Regions from separate parts of the Homo sapiens genome. Here region 1 is linked to region 2. The links come from fine-mapping of genetic effects on gene expression. A gene starts in region 2. The other region holds a variant in brackets. All regions are shown on one strand. Distances are between the middles of the regions.

What was found.
Region 1: its variant is fine-mapped to the expression of SAP30L in whole blood (TOPMed, PIP above 0.99).

Annotation. Positions count from the first base shown.
Region 1 is chr5:154,468,367-154,471,269 of GRCh38, forward strand. No RefSeq gene overlaps it. Among named protein-coding and RNA genes, the nearest start is that of HAND1, 8.4 kb to the right of the region's middle. The variant G/A (reference allele first, on the strand shown) is at 1,323.
Region 2 is chr5:154,444,451-154,447,353 of GRCh38, forward strand. It overlaps SAP30L (SAP30 like), which reads left to right and starts at 1,547. Exons shown (of 4, transcript NM_024632.6): 1 at 1,547-2,355. The coding sequence starts at 2,155. It overlaps SAP30L-AS1 (SAP30L and GALNT10 antisense RNA 1), which reads right to left and starts at 1,372. Exons shown (of 3, transcript NR_037897.1): 1 at 1,288-1,372. RefSeq lists enhancers at 1,171-1,290, 1,344-1,844 and silencers at 1,421-1,950, 2,081-2,190.

The DNA.
Region 1 (2,903 bases), 24 kb after region 2:
CAGGTCCTCAAAACGCTTCTAGACGCTACTCTGCCTTCCCTTTTTTTTTCTCTCTTTTTTTGAGAATTTTTTTTGAGACAGAGTCTTGCTCTGTCACCCAGGCTGGAGTGCAGTGACGCGATTTCAGCTTACTGCAACCTCCACCTCCCAGGTTCAAGCAATTCTCCTGCCTCAGCTTCTCGAGTAGCTGGGATTACAGGTGCACGCCCCCATGCCCGGCTAATTTTTGTATTTTTTTAGTAGAGACGGGGTTTCCCCATGTTAACCAGGCTGTTCTCCAACTCCTGACCTTGTGATCTGCCTGCCTCGGTCTCCCAAAGTGCTGAGATTACAGGTGTGAGCCACTGCGCCTGGCCTCTGCCTTCCCTTTTACAGAAGTGAGCTGTGGGTCTCAGAAAGGTTAAAAAACCTGCCCATTGCCATGCAGCTCATTTCACCAACTCACCTAGTTTTGAGTACAGGCCTGGGGGGCCAGTCTAGACCTCCCTGTTGACCTTGGCCAGGCCTCTTGTGCTAATATGTTTTCTGTTTCAAAACACTTTTTTTTTTTTTGAGACAAAGTCTCACTCTGTTGCCCAGGCTGGAGTGCAGTGGCGCTATCTCAACTCACTACAACCTCCACCTCCCAGGTTCAAGCAATTCTCCTGCCTCAGCCTCCCAAGTAGCTGAGATTACAGGCATGTGCCAACACGCCCTGCTAATTTTTGTATTTTTCGTAGAGATGGGGTTTCACCATGCTGGTCAGGCTTGTCTCGAACTCCTAACCTCAGGTGATCCACCCACCTTGGCTTCCCAAAGTCTTGAGATTACAGGCGTGAGCCACCGCACCCAGCCTTCAAAACACTTTCAAAGATCTTTTCCCACTTCAGCGTGACAGGAGTTCTGTTGCGGGGAGGAAAGATATTGTTAGCCCATCTTAGAGATTAGAAAACTGGGGCACAAGGAGATGACTGGACCAAGGTCACCTGACTCATAGTAGACTTGGAACTGGAACTAGGTGGGACACTCCAAAAGGCACTCCACATCTTACTGCCCAGCTATAGTCCCCCTACTGTCTCTGGGAGTCACGGAACTGAGTGGCTGAAAGGGCAGGTTTTCGAGTCAAATGCATCTGGGTCTGCAGCCCAGCCCTGCCACTTAATAGTTATGTGCCTGGACCAGGCACGGTGGCTCTCGCCTGTAATCCCAGCACTTTGGGAGGCTAAGGTGGGAGGATCATTTGAGCTCGAGACCAGCCAGCTGACAAGCTGAAACCGCATCTCTACTAAAAATACAAAAAGTTAGCCAGGTATATTGGTCAGCACCTGTAATCCCAGCTACTC[G/A]GGAGGCTGAGGCAGGAGTATCGCTTGAACCTGAGAGACGGAGGTTTCAGTGAGCCGAGACGGCACCACTGCACTATAGCCTGGGCAAAAAGAATGAAACTCCAACTTAAAAAAAAAAAAAAAAAGCCCCTGGTTTTGAAGGCTTAGTATGAAAAAAAAAGAATGTAAAATATCTTACTAATAATTTTTAGATGGATTCATGTTGAAATTCTATTTTGGATATATTAAGTTAAACAAAATACATTATTAAAATAATTTCACCTGTTTCTCTTCTCATTTTTATTGTGGCTACTAGAAAATGTTTAATCACCTATGTGACTCGCACTTATAGCTTGCATGATAGTTGTACTGTACAGTGCTGCCTGAAACAGTTTCAGAAATTCAACGGCTACAGGCTGCCTTCCCCCTGTGTTACCTTAATGATGTGGACTATAAGGGCTTTGAAGCAGGAATTTGCTCACTGGGTGTGTGTCCTTGAGAAAGTCACTGAAATCTTCTGCATCTGTTGGAAGTATGCCCTGAGTCTCCAAAGCCAGCAAACAAACCAAAAGAAACCCTCAATGCTTCACAAGACTGTTATGAGGATTAAATAAAATAATAAAAATAGCTCTACCATGGGCAACGCGCTAAGTGCTTTGCATGCCTTATCTCTTTCCATCCTCACAGACCCAAGGATGTTGGGGGAATGATTGCTCTCATTTTGTAGATAAGAAAACTGAGGTTGAGAAATGTTCAGTAACTTGTGAAGAAAACTGAGATTGGGAAATGTTCAGTAACTTGTGCAGGGACTCCTGGCCCTTGTATTGTTCTGTTCCCTGCACTAAAAGTAGAAGGTATTAAATAAACAAAGGGAAGAGAAGGGCACAACTTCCCTGAGATGCTGGGCAAGTCCCTCTCCTTTGTGAGCCTCAGTTTCTCCTTCTGTAAATGAGGGACATGCTTGGATGGTGGGTAAAGACCTTTGAGGTCTCAGTGTTATGGGGTGTGTTCACATTTCAGTGAACATAAGCCTTTCAGGACTCCTCTAAAGTCCGATGCTTTCCATTGTCTATTTTGTGGGGATAAATGTGCATTTCTGTTTGTTTTAATAACATTTGTAGGAGCTTTATATAGTGTCTACGTCTGCTTACATTAGATGCTGTGTATTATAGTTAAGAGTCTTTCACGATTTCCCATATAAACCTAGTTTTTTATGAGTTTGGGAGAGCTCAGCTGTAAAAACTCTCTCAGCTGAAAAAATTTTGTTTCTAACAAATCAGGTTTAAATCAGGAGGCTGGTTTCAGACACTTCAGAACGTGCATATTTTTTCTCTTCAGTCACTCTTCATTTAAAAATGAGATTGGCTGATTTCTTAGTTTCGTTTCTTTTGTGAAGATTTAGCAAGACTATAAGGTTAACCAATGGTTGCATAGACAGAAGGTATCCAGTGCCTTTTCCGTAAGAACCCTGGGTTTGAGGCGCACCTTCTAATCCGGGCTCAGCCTTTGACTGGCTGTGTGACCCTGAACTGGTCACATCAACTCTCTTGGGTTTGCCTTTCCCACATCTGTCCATGGGGAGCATCATTCCTGCCTTGGCTG
Region 2 (2,903 bases):
TTATTCTCTATAGAAAATGTTTACATTGATGTTGAAACTACCTCAAATGCTAACTGCACAATCTCTTTCTGAAGATTTTAGGTAGTTTACTTAACCACTTCCCTTTTGGAACTCTGAGGTTCTATTTTATTTTTCCTATTATAAATAATTCCATAATGAACATCACTGTACTTCATATTATCTCTGATAGGCCTATTTCCGACGATGGCTGTCCCACGTGTGAAATTACCAGTTCAGATGCTACAAATGCATTTATGGCCACTGAGCAAAACTTAAGATCACCAGCCACCTGCTTCTAAACATGGAAACTGGTAGCTTTCCCTTTTACAACAGGACACAAACCCGAAGCTCCTTCTATGCCCTCTAGTACTAACACTTGCTTACCTATCACCTAACACAGCCTCCCCTCTTCCCTGCCCATAAAACGCTGCCCAGCCCTACATAATTACACGACCCTGGGCTGGTCCCATCGCCTTTCGGACCTCATCAGTCCCCATGCTGCGCAGTTGGAGAGTGGCATGACTGAAGTGCTGGACCAGAGCATATCCTACGGCCCCTCCTGGAGGGGAGGTGGTGCCCTGGGCGCCGAAACCAAGCGCAGGGTCTTGGCAGGGCGCAGTCGCTTCGCCGGTAGACCCGGGGACTCAAAGCAATAGAACTACAGCTTGGAGCTCCAGGGAGAGCCCAAGACACCGCAGCCCTTCCCCATCTAGATTCCGAGATTGGCCCCTGGGCCCCACTCCCAGCCTTCACTTCATCTCCCCTGAAGCCCTTTCTCTTGCCCGCGGCTCACCTAGTCCACCCTCCAGACCTCATTCGGACTTCCCATTCTTCCCAGTGGAGGGGTCGCCCAAACCCCTCGGGGTCTCCTTTCCCCCTCTCCTTTTCTTTCCGCGCCGTCCAAGCCAGTCCCACTCTCCACACTCTGGAAGGTATCGGCTACCCCCAATATTGCGACTGCCTTGCAAGATCCCCCCATCACCTCCTCCGCATGTCTTTCCACGTATCTGTATGGGGTTGTCCCTCTGTCTTTCCCGCCATGACTGGCTTTCCGTCCTATTTCACCCACCCTTCCTCCCACGGATCCGCGAGTCCTCTGGCCCTGGCCCTTTCATTTTATTAGTCCGCCCCTCTCCTGATAGCACCTCTATCCTCTTTAGGTCCCCTCATATGCCCCTCCTCCAAGTCTGTCCCTCAGCGTCCCCGTCCGCGTCTCTACTGTCTGTCCCCGAATGTGTTCCTCTGTTCCTGGAGTCTGGCCCTCGGTCCAGCCAGGCCCCTGCTCACCATCCCTCCCCCGGGCCGGAGAGTCTGCAGCCCGGTTCCCGGTTCTCGCTGGGGTAACTCTTTCCTCTTCCACTTTCTCTACTTTGAACCCATCCCAGCAGAGTCCAGGAAGTAGCCTGGCGCCGGAGACTGGCGGCGGCGACGCCCAATGGGACGCGCCAGCGGCGGCGGCAGCCCCGCCCAGAGAGCAAATGAGACCAATGGTCGCGTGAAGGCGGGACTTCCGCTGTCCCGCGAAGGGCGGGGGGAGCGAACTGTTGTGGTGCGGAGCGTTCGGCGGGCGGCGGCCGGGCGGCCCAGGGGCTGCCGCGGGACTCGGGGCGCAGCCGAGTGGCTGCAGGGGTGGAGTGGGCCGGACGAGCCGCGGGGCCCGGGTGCCGCGGGTTCGAGGCCGGGCCCCGCGCGAGGAGGCCGCGCCACCCCGGGGGAGCTGCCCGGCAGCGAGTTTGCCCCGCTGCCGAAAGAAGGCGGGAGCCGGCAGGGGCCTTCGAAACCCCCTGGCAACCCAGGCCCGGAGTCCTTGGGGAGCGGCTGTTTCCTGGGACGCCCTCCCGGACACCCCCGCTGCAGGGTTACGGTTCTGGGCCCCCGGCAGAAGGCTCCTCCGGGTGACCCCCGGCGGGGCCCTGCGAGCCGCGGGAGCCGACCCCGGGGCCTCGAGCCGGGAGGAAGGGGGCTTCCGGAGGCGGAGGGCCGGGGGCCGAGGGAGCCGGGCCTCTCGGACGCGGGGCAGGGCAGCGCCCGGGCTGGAGACGGACTCTGGGACCCTCGGCTGCGGGGGTCTCAGCGACCTGCCCCGCGGCAAGCGCGGCCGCGGAGTGGCCTACCGGGGACCCTCCCCCAGAGGGACCGGCCCGGGGCGGGGAGATGAACGGCTTCAGCACGGAGGAGGACAGCCGCGAAGGGCCCCCCGCCGCCCCAGCTGCCGCCGCCCCGGGCTACGGCCAGAGCTGCTGCCTCATCGAGGACGGCGAGCGCTGCGTCCGGCCCGCGGGCAACGCCTCCTTCAGCAAGAGGGTCCAGAAGAGCATCTCGCAGAAGAAACTCAAGCTGGACATCGACAAGAGCGTGAGTCCGCCCCCGCTCGCGTCTGGGCCCCGGCGCCCCCAGCTCTCCGTCCGCTGCCCTGGGCTCCAGTCGGGACTCCCCGGGCACTCCCCGCCGTGGGCCTCGCCGCCCCGGCTCTGCAGAACTGAGTTGGACTCCGCATTTCAAAGGCCGCTCCAGCGCTGACATGCTCTGACTGTGATTCTACCCAGATCCGGGAGGATGGGGGCGGGGGCTTCAGGACTCCTGCTGCCTGGAAAGATTGGACAGCAGTTTCCAACTTGTTTTATTGGTTTAGACTTTAGAGCAGGGAGAGGTGGGTTAGTTTTGTTGGCCCTTGAAGGAGCAAGAATCGGAGCGGGGAGTGATGAAGATACCCGGCTCTTTTCCAACTTCTCTCTCCTTCTAGGAACCCTGTTATTCCTTCAGACAGAGAAAGGTGGCAGTTACTTCCCTGGCTCCCGCATCCTCGGTATCAGCAGAGGGTCACCGAGCTAGCTGCTTCGCAGGCAGCTGTGGGAATGGGTTTTTCTAGGATGTGGCAGAAATAAGGCCAAGGCCAGGTCTTG